Linked DNA regions of Homo sapiens: region 1 is linked to region 2. Evidence: fine-mapped expression QTL. A gene starts in region 2. The other region holds a variant in brackets. All regions are shown on one strand. Distances are between the middles of the regions. Region 1 overlaps CENPA (centromere protein A). Region 2 holds the start of SLC35F6 (solute carrier family 35 member F6).

Evidence for each region. PIP is the estimated chance that this variant, and not a neighbour inherited with it, causes the effect.
Region 1: its variant is fine-mapped to the expression of SLC35F6 in whole blood (INTERVAL, PIP above 0.99).

The regions. Positions count from the first base shown.
Region 1 is chr2:26,787,223-26,795,551 of GRCh38, reverse strand. It overlaps CENPA (centromere protein A), which reads right to left. Exons shown (of 5, transcript NM_001809.4): 2 at 3,312-3,421; 3 at 2,719-2,796; 4 at 2,226-2,407; 5 at 963-1,740. The coding sequence ends at 2,273. Among named protein-coding and RNA genes, the nearest start is that of CENPA, 5.3 kb to the right of the region's middle. RefSeq lists a silencer at 645-845. The variant A/G (reference allele first, on the strand shown) is at 4,523.
Region 2 is chr2:26,759,559-26,767,887 of GRCh38, reverse strand. It overlaps SLC35F6 (solute carrier family 35 member F6), which reads right to left and starts at 3,604. Exons shown (of 6, transcript NM_017877.4): 1 at 3,462-3,604. The coding sequence starts at 3,538. RefSeq lists a silencer at 3,428-3,737 and enhancers at 3,748-3,947, 8,122-8,329.

The DNA of each region.
Region 1 (8,329 bases), 28 kb before region 2:
CTTTTAAATTGCTTTCAGTTACAACAGAAGGGCAAGGTTTTCATCTAGTCATACTCTACTCCACCAGAGGCAAAACCACCTCCCTTAATTATCTTGTTTAAATTGTGGCTGTTCGCCCCGTCCGGGAGGTGAGGGGTGCCTCTGCCCGGCCGCCCCTACTGGGAAGTGAGGAGCCCCTCTGCCCGGCCAGCCGCCCCCTCCGGGAGGGAGGAGGAGGGGTCAGCCCCCCGCCCGGCCAGCCGCCCCGTCCGGGAGGTGAGGGGCGCCCCTGCCCGGCCACCCCTTCTGGGAAGTGAGGAGCCCCTCTGCCCAGCCACCACCCCATCTGGGAGGTGTACCCAACAGCTCACTGAGAACGGGCCATGATGACAATGGCGGTTTTGTGGAATAGAAAGGGGGGAAAGGTGGGGGAAAGATTGAGAAATCGGATGGTTGCCGTGTCTGTGTAGAAAGAAGTAGACATGGGAAACTTTTCATTTTGTTCTGTACTAAGAAAAATTCTTCTGCCTTGGGATCCTGTTGATCTGTGACCTTACCCCCAACCCTGTGCTCTCTGAAACATGTGCTGTGTCCACTCAGGGTTAAATGGATTAAGGGCGGTGCAAGATGTGCTTTGTTAAACAGATGCTTGAAGGCAGCATGCTCATTAAGAGTCATCACCACTCCCTAATCTCAAGTACCCAGGGACACAAACACTGCGGAAGGCCGCAGGGTCCTCTGCCTCGGAAAACCAGAGACCTTTGTTCACTTGTTTATCTGCTGACCTTCCCTCCACTATTGTCCTATGACCCTGCCAAATCCCCCTCTGCGAGAAACACCCAAGAATGATCAATAAAAAAAAAGACTCCATCTCAAAAAAAAAAAAAAGAAAAAAAAATTGTGGCTGTTTGCAAACAAATAAAGAACTTATTTTTAACACACAAAAAGTACAGTATAATCTCTATGCTGTAACAGTAAGTCCATTTTCATTAAATATTTTGATTTTTATTATCTCTCTACAAAGAAACTACAAAAATACCCATAAAAGCATCGAAAATGTACTTTAAAATTCTGAACTGTTATGATACATCTTCTATGATTTACAAGAGTAAAATGTTAAATTCTCCAAGTTAGAATTTCTGAATTGATTTTGACAGGAATTTACTAGAAGTAACCAGAACATCAAAGCTTACAGGTTTTCTATTCATCCCCAATTAAGTTTCTGAAAAGCTACACATCCGTTGACAAGCACAGTCCACTCAGTTACATGATGCTGCCACTAATGGTGAGGCTACTCTGAAGGGCAGAGGTCTATATGATGGAAATGCCCAGCCTTCCAGGCAACTGCTCAAAGTGGTCTTATTTTTTCCCTTATGTGTAAAATAAAAGTACAAATGTACATATGGTAAAAAATGTAAATATTACAGAAAGAGCTAAAATAATAAGTACATAGCCTTTTCTCCCATACCACAGCAAATCTGATGTTTTCAAAATCCTCAAATAGTCACATGAGTAACTCACAAACTAAAGTCAACCTTGGAGTCTCTTTATCTGAAAATTATTTTCAGGCCTTTGGAACGGTGTTGATTGTCTCATATATTACCTCTGTTACAGAGGAAAGTCATGCAGTCTTCTCCTTCTCAAAAAAAAGAAAAATATTTAAAGCAACACACACATACTGTTCAGAGACAGCAAAGTCCAGACAGCATCGCAGAATCCATTGGATCTAGTCATGGCTCTGGAGAGTCCCCGGTATCATCCCTGAAATTAAGGAAGCACACTTACTAACAAGCCATTTTCAAAAGTAAGAAAACTTTCTCTTAATCAAAAAAGAGAAAGTTTTTATTAGAAAGTGTTCTCTTTTATTAGAAAGTTTATTAGAAAGTTTTCTCTTAATCAAAATGAGGTCATCTGATTCTTGTAATCTCAACACTTTGGGAGGCCAAGGCAGGAGTTGCAGTGAGCCACGATGGCAACACTGATGACAGAGACCCTGTCTTATAAAAATAAAACAACAACAATAACAACCAAAAGAAATTAGGGTCATCTGGTTATTATTTAATAGAAAGATATCTTTTATCTAACATTGCACAAAAGGGCACAAACCACATTGTCCCAGGCAGTCAAAACTAGATCAACCTTTACTAGAGAACAAAGGGAAGGCGAGGTGACAAGGGACTATGGATGGAGAAAGGAAATTACTTGAGAAATTCCAGCCCCAGTCCTGTGAAAGAGGATGAGCTTACCCCCTGGCTGAGCAGGAAAGACTGACAGAAACACTGGGTGCAGGAGCTCAGCCGAGTCCCTCCTCAAGGCCCCGGATCCTCCGGGCCAGTTGCACATCCTTTGGGAAGAGAGTAACTCGGCCTGCATGTAAGGTGAGGAGATAGGCGTCCTCAAAGAGATGAACTAGAAATGCTTCTGCTGCCTGGAGACAGAAAGAGAAAAAGACGGACACAGATGAAGGGCCACGGGCTGCTTTTTTTTGGAAACCTGCTAAACTTAATCTCTGAGGGCTCAAAGGATTGTAGGAAACTATTCACAGAATGAGACTGAACTTTGCCAGGGAATTCTGCTATCACCACGCAGAATCCAGCCTCCAAACCCTCAGAGGTTACCTCATTGTTCTTTTCCAGAGGTCAGATTCAGCATGTGACACTCCAGTCAGCACTGGAGAATTCTAGGCTGCCTCTTTCTCCCACTCAGCCCTCACCCAATTGTGCCTTGGTGCCTTCTTACCTCTTGTAGGGCCAATAGGGCCTGGGCTTGCCAATTGAAGTCCACACCACGAGTGAATTTAACACATATTTCTCTTGCCTGTGAAGGAGTGGGGAAGGGGAGGAGTAGGAGTAGGGAGTAACAGAAGAGAGATTCAAGGGACAATGATGCTCTCCATGAGTTCCAGTGAATCTTCCTTTCCATTATTTTTTCCTGGCTCTTAATCTTAGGACCCAATTAGGAGCAGGTGTTGACTCCTGGGAGCTTAGGAACTGGCGGATCTCTTACTGGTGATGGGGAAATCACCAGTAATTGGGTGATGAGAGGCAATCTCCCAGGATAGGAAAAGGGATCTAAGGTGGACAAACGAGAGAGTTCCTATTTATACAGTCAAAAACTACAGTTTTAAAAAGGTAGTAGAGGTTAGAAATCAATTCCATAAAGAATTACAAGGTGCTCTTGGAGGGCTCATGTTTTCAGAAAAGAATCCCCTACCAGGTTACAAAAGAGGTCCCTTGGCCAGTTAGTTAAGAGACAGTAGGGTCCCTAATACCTGGGAAAATTTAAAAAAAGGAGGGTGGCATAGGGGTTGGTGGGAAGCTCCCGGAGCTTACCAGGCGGCTGAAGGGCAGCTTCCTTATCAAGAGGTGTGTGCTCTTCTGAAGCTTTCGGATCTCCTTTAGCCAACCTTGTCTCCGCCGACTGTGTTGATGGGAGGAAGCGCCTGAGCAAAAGAAAGGTAAGTTCAGTGGAAAATAGGTGGTGCCTCGCAGCTTGGCTGAGTCAGGTAAGCTGTCAAATTGCTAGACTATATCTATGTGCCTACCCTCCACAGAGCAGGGATTTTTGTCTGTTTTATTAGGTTGCTGCAAAAGTCATTGCAGTTATGGCAAAAACCACAATACTTTTGCACCAACCTGATATATAGTAATTTTGCTGCTATCTTCAGCAATTAGAAAATAGCAGATAGGTGCTAAATAAACATTTGTTAAATGAATGAGTGAATGATCCTCTGCAGTTGATTTTAAATGCTAACTCTTCCATGAAGTCTTTCCCGAATCCTGATCCTTCCAAACAGATGGGTGACCGCCCTCCTCTGGGCTTTGCAGGACTTTGTACAAGTCTTAGATCTTTCCCACCTAGATTGGAAGCTCAGTTATTTTGGTTTTAGATTTTTTGTTGGTTTGTTTTTTACAGCTGGAAAGAATCTGAGAGACTAGTACAATTCCCTTGTCTTGATCATCCTGAGGCCCAGCGAGGTGAAGATGGTTGGCCAGCCCTCATTAGTGGCCAAGCTGAGACCTGTGTAAGGTGTGGCCTAACTCAGTGTCAGTGTCAGGCACCTGGGCTGTGGAGACAGAGCCTTTGGCTCAAATCCTGGTTCCAACAAGAACAAAAAAGAAAATAATTTTAAAAACATTCCCAAAAGTAGGAATCAAAAAAGCCAAATTCTCTAATTGGAAATTAAAAACTCATGAATCAAAAACCAGTTTCTTCTAACTAACCTGTGTTGAAGAGGAAACTTAATTGAAATTAGACTATTTGGAAATGAATAACAATAAAAAGCCCATATCCCAAAACTTATGAGATACAGCCAAAATAGTACTAGAGGAAAATGCATAGCCTTAAAGTGTTCCTATTAGAAAACAAGAACACTAAAAGGTATCTGAGCCAAGCAGTCAAATTAAGTATTACAGAGTTATTAAAGTAAACCAAAACAAGATAGAACAAAAGAAATATTAGAAAATAAGTTAGTGAAAATAAAGTTAAAGAAAAAACAGCACAGTTGCTCCATAATTACAACCAAGGATCAAGATGAGTGAAC[A/G]TCTGATAAGTTGAACAAACAAAATACAAAAATAACATGTTGACGGATAAAATTGTTTCAGAAATGTTATTCAGGATCCAGCCAAGCAAAGAGACTCTACACCAAGTTCGATAGAAGGCATTTAATACAATAAACTAATCACGAAGTGTTAGAAGAGCTGCAAGAGCAAGTAGGGTAGGTGAGACAATCCAGAGATGGCCTGTGCCAGGCAGCCAGCAGAGGAGACCATCCCTGGGTGAGGCTAGAGAACACAGGCCAATGAAACAGGGCAGTGTCCAGAAGACTGATAACATTTAAAACTGGGAAGACCCATGCCCAGGAGAAAAACTACTGACACCTCCCTCCCTCCCCACCACCAGTTGGCAATCCAGTCACTGGAGGCAGTCTTTAATAAACAGACATAGGGCTGGGTGCGGTGGCTCACGCCTGTAATCCCAGCACTTTGGGAGGCCAAGGTGGGTCAATCACCTGAGGTCAGGAGTTCGAGACCAGCCTGATGAACATGGAGAAACCCATCTCTACTAAAAATACAAAAATTAGCCGGGCATGGTGGCAGGCACCTGTAATCCCAGCTACTTGGGAGGCTGAGGCAGGAGAATTGCTTGAACCCAGGAGATGGAGGTTGCAGTGAGCCAAGCTCGCACCACTGTACTCTAGCCTGGGCAACAAGAATGAGACTGTGTCTCAAACAAAAATATATAAATAAATAAAATAAAATAAAAAAATAAACAAGACATAGCATTCACAGAAAATTTGAAGATGAACACAACTAAAGATCACCCAACAATTTAAGAAGGCCAATACCATGAAAGAAAGGAACCAAACTCAACAAACAAAATAGCCAATACCAGAGGAAATTGAGTTAATAGAGAAAAGAAATAGAAACTTTGAGAGAAAAATGGTTAATGAACTCAGAGAGGTAACAGAGATATGAAATCCATGACCCAAGAACAAGTGGTTATGAAAAGTAACCAATTAGAGAGATCATGGAAAAGAACTGGGATCAAAAATTTAGTAGCTGGGTCTTGAAATGCCAACATGAGGAGATGGAATTTAATCCTACTGTAATAAGAAGCCAGGGAAGAGTTTTATGCAGGATAGAGATGTGGAAGGTCATTCCAGCTGCTGTGTAAGGAAAGAAGTAGAAAGGGACAGAGTGGAAGTGGAGTGGCAGCTGATTAGGAGGCTCTCACAGTTGCTCGAGAGCTGCTGGTAGCTTGGACTAGGCTAGTGGGAGCAGAGATGGTGAAAATGGAGTGATTAAGGATGCAGTTTGGAAGTAGAATTATCTGGACCTGCATTTGTATTGGAGACGGGGGTCTCCCAGGCTTGTGGTTTGAACAACTGGGTGGGTAGTTGTGCCATTTACTGAAATGGGGAAGCTGAGGATGAAGGGGCTGGAGGGGAGTAACCAGAAGTTCAGTTTTGGGTGTGTTAAGTTTAACATAACCAAGAGCCTTCAGGTAGAAAGGCAGTTAGATATAGGTATCTGGGGTCAGAGGAGAGATCCAGGTATACAGATATTTGAGAGCTGTCAATGTATGAGTGGGATTTAGAGCCACGGAGGAGATGAGACCACCTAGGGAGGGGGTAGAAAGGAAAAGGATGTCAAGGAAGTCCAACATCAAGGAGCCGAGGGAGGCAGCACAGGCAGTAGAGAACACCAAGCAGAACTGCCAGAGTGCACAGTGGCATGGAAGCCAAGGGAACAGAACGCTTCAAGGAGAAAGAGGCCCACTGCGTCAAATGCTTCTGAGACACAGTAAGAACACAGACCCACCTACTGGATTTGGCACTACAAAAGGTGCTAGTGACCCTGACAGGAGTAGTTCAAGCAGATTAGAAGTGGGGGTAGTGGTTGTGGGGAGTCAGATTGGAGTGGGTTGTAGGGTCACTAGGAAGGGAGGAATCAGATGCAATGTATGTGGACCTAACAAGTCTGGCTATTTTAAAAGGACAGCTATGAAGGGAAGTAGAGGGAAATGGGAGGTATAGGGAAGTGAGAATGTGGGGTCAAGGAAACACTCCTGCCCTTTCTCTTAAGATCGTAAATACGGCCAGGCGCAGCGGCTCAGGCCTGTAATCCCAGCACTCTGGGAGGCCAAGGTGGGCGGATCACTTGAGGTTGGCAGTTGGAGACCAGCCTGACCAACATGGTGAAACCCCGTCTCTACTAAAAACACAAAATTAGCCGGATGCGGTGGTGCATGCCTGTAATCCTAGCTACTCGGGAGGCTGAGGCAGGAGAATCGCTTGAACCCGGGAGGTAGAGGTTGCGGTAAGCCGAGATCACGCCGTTGCTCTCCAGCCTGGGCAACAAGAGGGAAACTCCGTCTCAAAAACAAAAACAAAAACAAAACAAAACAAAACATCATAAATACTAGAGCATATGTGCCGATGCCAGTGTGAAGTGTCTGGATTTATCTAAGCACAGGTAGAAAGCTCCTCTGTAGGTGAAAGAAGGATATGACCAAGACCCCATGTAGAAGGAAGGGCTTTGATAGGAAGGGGGACACCTAGTCAAGGCCATTATTGGCTAAGAGTGAGTGGGGGGAATGGAGCTGTAGGAAGTCGAGGAGGGAGAAAAAGGTATGAAATAGTCATGGGGAGAATGGAAAAGCAAGAATTCCAGACAAAGGCCAGGCACGATGGCTGTTTTTTTTTTGTTCTGTAGAGACAAAACAATTTGTCTCTACAAAAAAGGTTTAAAAATAGTCAAGCATGGTGGTGCAGGTCTGTCATCCTAGCTATTCAGGAGGGTGAAGCAGGAGGACTGCATGAGCCCAGGAGGTCAAGGCTGCAATGAACCAAGATAGCACCACTGCACTACAGCCTGGATGACAAGAGTGAGACTCTGTCTCGAAAATTGAAGAAAGAATACCAGACAAAGGTGGTAGGACTGCCAAGAAGTGTTGACTGCCCATTTGAGATAAACCTTCCATTTAACCAGGAGTAGAAGGATGCTTCTACCTTGGAAAGCAACAGCAAACATCATACTTAATATTCCTGTTAAAATTACAAACAAGACAAAGATGACCAAAACACCACTCTTAGTGAGTCTCAGGGCCTTACTAGTACCATACAATAATAAATAAAATGTGTAGAAATGAAAACGGAAGATTCAAAAGTTATTTGCAGATGACATAATAGTCTACTTAAAAATTCCAACTGGAGCAACTAAAAACGACTAGGGTGAACGAGAATTCAGCAAGTTGGCTGGAAGCAAAGGTTAAATCCTCGTGTTTTGGGAAAGAAAAAAAATCCCATTCGCAACAGCAACATCTAGAAACAACCTACTCCAGCCTAGGCAACATGGCAAAATCCCACCTCTACTAAAAATACAAAAAATTAGCCGGCATGGTGGCATATGCCTGTAGTCCCAGCTACTCGGGAGGCTGAGCTGGGAGAAGCACCTGAGCCTGGGAAGTTGAGGCTGCAGTGAACCCTCGTGGCATCACTGCACTCCAACCTGGGCGATGGGTCTCAAAAAAAAAACAACAAAAAACCAAAAAGCCGGCCGGGCGCGGTGGCTCACGCCTGTAATCCCAGCACTTTGGGAGACCGAGGTGGGCGGATCACGAGGTCAGGAGATCAAGACCATCCTGGCTAACACGGTGAAACCCTGTCTCTACCAAAAATACAAAAAATTAGCCGGGCGTGGTGGTAGGCGCCTGTAGTCCCAGCTACTCGGGAGGCTGAGGCAGGAGAAGGGCGTGAACCCAGGAGGCGGAGCTTGCCGTGAGCGGAGATCGCGCCACTGCACTCCAGCCTGGGCGACAAAGCCTGACTCCGTCTCCAAAACAAAAC
Region 2 (8,329 bases):
CTTGACCCTGGCTCTATTAATTAATTATTTATTATTATTATTTGTAGAGAACGAGGTCTCCCTATGTTGTCCAGGCTGATCTTGAACTCCTGGGCTCAAATGATCATCCCACCTCAGCCTCCAGTCTGGGATTACAAGCTGGAGCCACAGTGCCCAGCTGACCCCGGCTCTTCATATGTAGAACCTCAGTTGGATTCAGGAGACTGGGGTTCTGAAATGAGTACCTGTGGATGGGGCACTGGCTCACGTAGACAGAAATGGCTTGGCCTAAAGAAGATGATCGACAGAAGGTGCTAGTGAGGAGGTTTTGAGAAAACAGCCAGGGAAAGAAGAAGCCACTTCACAGGGAGGGGCCCCCTGCCAGGACCCAGGGATGGGGCCGCAGAGAGGAAAGCTGACCTGCCGCCCCAGCACAGCAGGCAGCACGTGCTCAGATGTGCTTCCTCATCCACTGCCTTTCATCCTCCCAAGAACCTGGGAAGGGAAACATCACTCTTGTCACAGGCCAAGAAACTGCCAGAGACAACCACAGGCTGTCAGTCTGAACCTTGAGTGGCCTGGACTCCAGCGGGAGGACCCTGTCAGCAGTGTCTCTGGGCTGGCTGAGAGGCTGGCAGCCCAGTCCTGGAGAGAGGCACATCAAAGGCTGGGAGCGCAGATGCCACTTACAGGTTTACAACTTCCACAAGCACAGGCTTCTCTGTCCTGGCCTGGGGAGCTGTGAGAGGAAACTCCCAGGAAGGAGGGACTCTGGGGTATCACAGTCATAAAAGAACAGGACTTAAAGTCCTGAGGCCTGGGTTCCAGCCTTCATTCAGACACCAAACAGTTGAATCACAGAAAGAAACTTCTCCTGAGGCCTCCTTTGTAAATTGTGGGGATTAGACTGGATGATTTCTATGCTTTTAACAACTCTAAATGACCCCAAAATGACTGGAGAAGTCCCCAGCCACACCCTCCAGTGGTGGTTAAGAGCATGGATGCTAGAGCCAGACCATGCTGGCTCAACTATAAACTCTGCCACTTAGTAGCTAAGTTGAACTTGGGCAAGGAATTTAATCATTTCCTACCTCAGTTTCCTTATACAGGAATATCAGCCCCTGTCTTTGCCTGATAGGGTGGTTATGAGAATTCCCTGAGTTCACACATGAAAGGGCAGAGCAGGGCCTGGGGCATGCGAGGTGCTCTTTGTGCATGAGATGCTTCTGCTAGTTGTCAGCACATGCTTGTCTGTCTGTGCCTGCTGGAAATCGTGGGTCAAAAATGTGATTTCCTTTTATTTTTTTTTTTGAGACCGAGTCTCACTCTGTCACCCAGGTTGGAGGGCAGTGGTGCAATCTTGGCTCATTGCAACCTCCGCCTCCCGGGTTCAAGCAATTCTCCTGTCTCAGCCTCCCAAGTAGCTGGGACTACAGGTGCGCACTACCACGCCCAGCTAATTTTTGTATTTTTAGTAGAGATGCAGTTTCACCATATTGGTCAGGCTGGTTTCAAACTCCTGACCTCAAGTGATCCAGCCGCTTCTGCCTCCCAAAGTGCTGGGATGACAGGCGTAAGCCACCGCGCCGGGCCAGAAATGTGATTTCAAATCCATACTTCACATCGGGGTGCATGCAGCTGCTCCCACATGTTCTTTCTCCCTAAGAGTATCCCTTCTTGTGGTTTGACCTTAGAACACTGTTTAGGGTCCAATTTGGGGGCCCATCTTGGGGTGGGAGGATCCTGAGAGGCCCCACACCAGCTGTCAGGCAGGGGACAGGACCAAAAGTTGGGTCTGTCACCTGGGAGCCTCTTTCCTGACTCTCAGGCAGCCTTTAAAGGCGACGCCTTCTGGGATTGAGGATCTCTAAGCTTCCTACCTGACTGGTTTGGAGTTTTCTAAGGAAGGAGGTGAATCAGCACAGTTTACCCCAGCAGTAACTGGCAATCTGGATTCTCCTTGTGGGCAGCAGCCCTGGTGGACTTACAACCGCTCTCTAAGCACTTGACAGAGGCCCTGGCTGGCATGACAGAACAGAAGACTTGCTTTGCTGTGTTCAGATCCTGAGATGGGAGCCCTCAGGCTGGGGCCTCTGAACAGCTAAGGATTCAGCATGAGGAGTGATCCTCAGGAGGATGCAGGGCCTGGGAAGCTAGTAGTTCTCCACAAGGCACAGTTGGCCAGAGGTGAACCAGAGGAACAGGTGGGGCCCACCCAGGACTCCACTGACTGTGCCCACCGTTTGGGGAAGGGAGAACACTGTGACTGTCGTGTGCGTACACGTCTGTCTCCTCCACCTCAGATTCCAAGCATCTCAAAGGCAGAGATCGCCTCTTGGTCACTTCTGTCCCCTTCCCTTACACACCGTAGGTACCTTATACATGGGATCGTGCCATTGCACTCCAGCCTGGGCAACAAGAAAAGGAGGGGCAGGAAGGCCCTGCCCTGAGATGGAGACAGAGAGAGACAAAGAAATGCCATCCTGCCCACAACAGAGGGGAGGCTAGGCCCTGTCCCTCAGTCTCATGACTGCCTGGGTCCTTAGTCCCTAACCTCCTGGGAACTGTCCCCCCTCTCACCCCCATACATCAGAGCTGAACTGGCCACTTGCCCTCTCTGTCTGAGTTAATGGCACTTTTCTTCTCCCAGGCAGAAACCCTGGAGTGATCCTTGTTTCTTGCTCATGTGGGTCAGGCCTGTGGCCATTCACACCTGGTCTCTGCCACCAGTTGTCCCTTCCTTTCTCTTCTCACTGCCACCTCCTAGTTCCCCTCATCTGCTATGCAGCAGCCTTGGAGTGGTTTTTCCTGCACCAAACCACTCCTCATGTCATTGAGTCAATCATATCACTTTCAACATGTCATTCCCCAGCTCAAAAGCACTTTTCTGATTATGAGAGAAAATCTAACCTGGGCATTTGATGCTGGTTACAATCGACTTTGATCTGGCCTTTCCGTAGACTTTCCTTGACTTACAGTCTCAGACACATTCCGAAATCCCACCTAAGCTTCAAAGCACAGCTCTAACCCCTCATCCTTGAGGGGCCGTGGGGCACCTCCCTGTCTGCCGCTTGAGGCCTCCACGCTCACTGGGTCACTCGGCCTGCACAGCCACTACTGCGGCTCATGTGCACAAGTCCAGGGGTCTCTCCCAGCTCGTGGAGGGAGGTGCTCAGGCTTGGACGCCAGCACTGGAAGGGCCGTGGAAAGGAATCGGCCAACCCTCCTGTTAAAAGACGTGGAAACAGGAGCGGAGGCTGTACAGCAAATCAAAGCCGGGGCTCGGATCCCCCCGTCCGGGGCGCAGCCCCGCTCCGCATTTCCCCGGGCCTCGCATCCCTTGGGTGGTCATAACGCGCGCGAACTGACCGGAGCAAGTGGGAAAGCAGGGGAAGCCAGGAGGGCAGGGCCAAGAAGGGGGAAGGCGTAGAACGAGCGCCGGGGTCGCCAGGGCCCGCACGCCCGGCAGGGCCCAGACTCACTTTGCCGAGAGCGTGTTGATGGAGCCGGTAACAAGCATGAGCCCGGCCAGGAACAGCTGGTACTTGGTCCAGGCCATGTCGGCGGACGCTGGGGTTCGCTCCAGTTAGCGGCGCCGGGCCCCGTCACCCGGGGTCTCCTGCGCGAGCGCTTCCGGGCCGGGCGTCACGTGACCCCTCCTGCTCGCCCCGCCCCCGGGGAGCGCGCCTGAGCCACGGTGCCCGCGCTCTGCCGAGTCGTCCTGGAGCGCTTTGGTGGCCACGCCGTGGCCCTGGCAAATCACGGCCCAGGCCTTCCAGTTTTTTTTTTCTTTTCTTCCTCACTCTCCCCCGCCTTTTTGGGTTTCTTTTTTCTATTTTTTTGAGAAGGAGTCTCACTCTGTCGCCCAGGCTGGAGTGCAATGGCATGATCTCGGCTCACTGCAATATCCGCCTCCTGGGTTCAAGCGATTCTCCTGCTTCAGCCTCCCGAGTAGCTCGGATTACAGGCGCCCTTCACCACGCCCGGCTAATTTTTTGTATTTTTAGTAGAGACAGGGCTTCACCATGTTGGCCAGGCTGGTCTCGAACTCCCGACCTCAGGTGATCCGCCCTCCTCCGCATCCCAAAGTATTGGGATTACAGGCGTGAACCACCGCGCCTGGCCTTGGTTTCTTATTTTTATCTTTGGGTCTTCCTATTTGTAAAAGGGGCGGATGGGACAGTGCAGTGAGGGTGCATCGTGGCTATTACAGCATTTTGTGAATCGTTTTGAGAGGTTGAGCTGGGCGGTGTCAGAAAGGAGCCCTGAAGTGGGCCTGCCGGGAGTTCCTTGGGGACCCTGTAGAGAGGAGATTCCCACGCTGGACGTTTCCACTTCGGGGCTCCTATCTGATACCGCCCACCTTGGGCACAGTTCATATCTTTCAGCAAAGTGGCGAAGGCATCTAGCTCCAGTTGCCGAGGACACCATTTTATAGCTGAGGACAGTAAATTCAGCGAAGCAGAGTGATTTGCTTAAGAACCTGCTGGTGAGCAGTGGGGTAGGGATTTGCGCTTGGGTTCTCCAGTCTCCAAAAATCCGTGCCTTCCGCATGGCCTCTGCACCAAGCCCTGCTTCACTGCTCCTTTGTGGACTTTCTGGTCGCAGCTGAGGCATCCAGGCAGAAAGACCATCCCTAGGTTTGTTTGAAGAGGGTGTTGACGAAGAGTCACACTCTAAAATATTTGAAGGGATTTATTCTGAGCCAAATATTTGTGACCATGGCCCGTGACACAGCCCTCAGGAGGTCCTGAGAACATGTGCCCAAAGTGGTCGGGGCGCAGCATTTTAGAAAGACACGAGACATCAATCAAATACATTTAAGAAATACATTGGTTTGGTCCAGAAAGGTAGGACAACTCAAAGCCGGGAGGAGGGGAGAGGGTGGGGCAGGAAACGGGAAAAATATCTATCTATGTTAATAGAGATTTTTGTTTTTTTTTGAGACGGAGTCTTGCTCTGTCGCCCAGGCTGGAGTGCAGTGGTGCGATCTCGGCTCACTGCAACCTCCACCTCCCGGATTCAATCAGTTCTCTGCCTCAGCCTCCCAAGTAGCTGGGACTACAGGTGCCTGCCACCACGCCTGGCTAAATTTTGTATTTCTAGTAGAGATGGGGGGGGTCTCACCATGTTGGCCAGGCTGGTCTTGAACTCCTGATCCACCTGCCTCGGCCTCCCAAAGTGCTGGGATTACAGGCGTGATCCGCCACGCCCGGCCGGTAATAGAGATTCTTTACAGATGCAAATTTTCCCCCACAAAAGACAGATTTGCAGGGCCATTTCAAGATATGGCAAAGAAAAATGTTTTGGGGTAAAATCTTTTGACTTTCTTCTTAGTCACATAATATTATGCCAGAGTCAGATTGGAAAGTAAGTCATGATATATAGGGTTAAATAAAACCCATCTGATGAGAATTTATGGTTTGTAGGGCATGACTCTCCAGACCTCTTAGGTAGGAATTTGGGCAAGGTAAAAAAAATCAGAGCTTAGTCCTCAAGGGGTTCTGGTGTTTAAAATCCTACTCTTGGCTGGGTGTGGTGGTTCACACCTATAATCCTAGCACTTTGGGAGGCTGAAGCGGGCTGATTGCTTGAGCTCAGGATTTCCAGACAAGCCTGGGCAACATGGCAAAACTCAGTCTCTACTAAAAATGCAAAAATTAGCTGAGTGTCATGACAAGTACCCATAATCCCAGCTACTCAGGAGGCTAAGTAGGAGGATCGCTTGAGTCCCTGGAGGTGGAGGTTGCAATGAACTGAGATCATGCCACTATACTCCGGCCTGGGTGGCAAAGTGACACCCTGTCTTAAAAAAAGAAAAAAAAAAGGCCAGGCGCGGTGGCTCGCACCTGTAATCCCAGCACTTTGGGAGGCTGAGGCAGGTGGATCACCTGAGGTCGGAATTCAAGATCAGCCTGACCAACATGGTGAAACCCCATCTCTACTAAAATACAAAAAATTAGCCAGGTGTGGGGGTGCATGCTTGTAATCTCAGCTACTCCGGAGGCTGAGGCAGGAGAATCGCTTGAACCTGGGAGATGGAAGTTGCAGTGAGCCAAGATCGAGCCATTGCACTCCAGCCTGGGCAACAAGCGCGAAAACTCCATCTCAAAAAAAAAAAAAAAAAGAAAGAAAAAGAAAAGAAAAAACTGCTCCTAATATGCCTTTCCCAGTGCTCTAGTCTGCACCCATGCCCTGTCACGCCAGCGACAAGATCCTTTTGTTACCAGAAAGGGGTTCTGATCCAGACCTCAAGAGAGGGTTCTTGGACCTGGCACCTTGCGGGGAATCCATAAAGTGAAAACAAGTTTATTAAGAAAGTAAAGGATAAAGAATGGCTACTCCATTGGCAGAGCAGCCCCGAGGGCTGCTGATTGGTTATTTTTATGGATATTTCTGGATTATATGCCAAACAAGGGGTGGATTATTCATGAGTTTTCTGGGAAAGGGGTGGGCAATTGCCAGAACTAAGTGTTCCTCCCCTTTTTAGACCATGTAGGTTAACTTCCAGTTGCTACCATGGCATCTGTAAACTGTCGCGCGCTGGTGCGAGTGTCTTTTAGCATGCTAATGCATTATAAATAGTGTATAACAAGCAGTGAGAAAAACCAGAGGTCACTTTTGTCGCCATCTTGGTTTTGGTGGGTTTTGGCCGGCTTCTTTACTGCATCCTGTTTTATCAGCAAGGTCTTTGTGACCTGTACCTTGTGCCCACTTCCTATCTCGACCTGTGACTTAGAATGCCTAACCTCCTGGGAATGCAGCCCAGTAGGTCTCAGCCTCGTTTTACCCAGCCCCTGTTCAAGATGGAGTTGCTCTGATTTAAATGTCTCTGACACTTTGGAAAACGACTTCAGACCGAGCCAACACACTTCCCCTATGCTGCAGATCTTGTTTCTGTGGTGAGAAAAGAACTTTTACCTGAGGAATGCGAGTCCTGTAAGTTATCAGGCCCAGAGAGACATTAAAATAAGACAGCAATCACGTCCTACTCCCACTTTGAGTTATGTATTTATGTCTTGAAACTGCTTGCTATTGCCACAGGTAGCTATAACCTAACAATGCTGCACTGGACACCATATCTTACATCCTATAGCACTGTACAGCCAATCACTAATCAATGTTATTTCTGTAAACCAATGAGAATTTCTGACAAACAACTTTGTATCAGCCCACTCCCTGTCCTCCTTTTTCTGCCTTTAAAAACCTGTTTGTAACAAAGAGAGAAGGGAGCTCACATCCAAGATTACTTGCGTCTGAGTCTTTTGGGCAGCTGTCCTCATTTTGGCTCAAGTAAACTGTTTAACTTATATTTTGTGCCTTGGCACCTTCTTGTTTTTTTTAAGATGAAGTGGTGCTCTGTCGTCCAGTCTGGAGTGCAGTGGCACATTCTTGGCTCACTACAACTTCTGCCTCCCAGGTTCAAGCAATTCCCCTGCCTCAGCCTCCCGAGTAGCTGGGATTACAGGTGAGCACCACCATGCCCAGCTACATTTTTTGTATTTATAGTCGAGATGGGGTTTCACCGTGTTGGCCAGGCTGGTCTTGAACTCCTGACCTCAAGTGATCCACCCACCTTGGCCTCCCAAAGTGTTGGGATTACAGGTGTAAGCCACCACGCCCAGATGGCTAGCAACTTCATTTTAGATGAACAGGAGGTGGCCCGTGTGGTGGCTCACACCTGTTATCCTAGCACTTTGGGAGGCTGAGGCCTCCTAATCCCAGGAATTTGAGAGCAGCTTGGGCAACATAGCCAGACCCTCATCTCTACAAAAACACTTAAAAATTAGTCAGGGGTGGTAGTGCGGGCCTGTGAGCCCAGTTACTGGAGAAGCTGAGGCAGGAGGATTGCTTGAGCACAGGACTTTGAGGCTGCAGTAAACCGTGGTCATGCCCCTGCACTTCAGCCTGGGCAACAGAGCAAGACCCTATCTCACACACACACAAATTTTTTAAATTAAACAAATAGATCAACAAGAGGTACAGAGATAGGACCTGTCTGCCAACTCCTCCTACTTGCCCTAAGACAGCCTCGAACTTGTGAAAAAGGCCAGAGTGGACGCAGAACTCTCAAGGGGCTGCACCAGACTCCCTTATTGCAGGAAGACCTGCTGGAGAAGGTGTATAAGTGGGATCCTGGAAAAAACATAGGAGGTCCCCAGATAGACAGCAGAAGGGCTTTCTTGCAGATGGACATGGCATGTACAGCGGTGCAGAGGTGTGAGTGTGGAACAAGCCTGGGACCCACAGAATGTTCTAGAATTTTCTTTAATTGGAGCCTCTTCTCCTTTCAGTCAGTGCGGAGTTGGAAGACCCAGAAGAGGTTTCTTCTGAACTTTTTTTTTTTTGA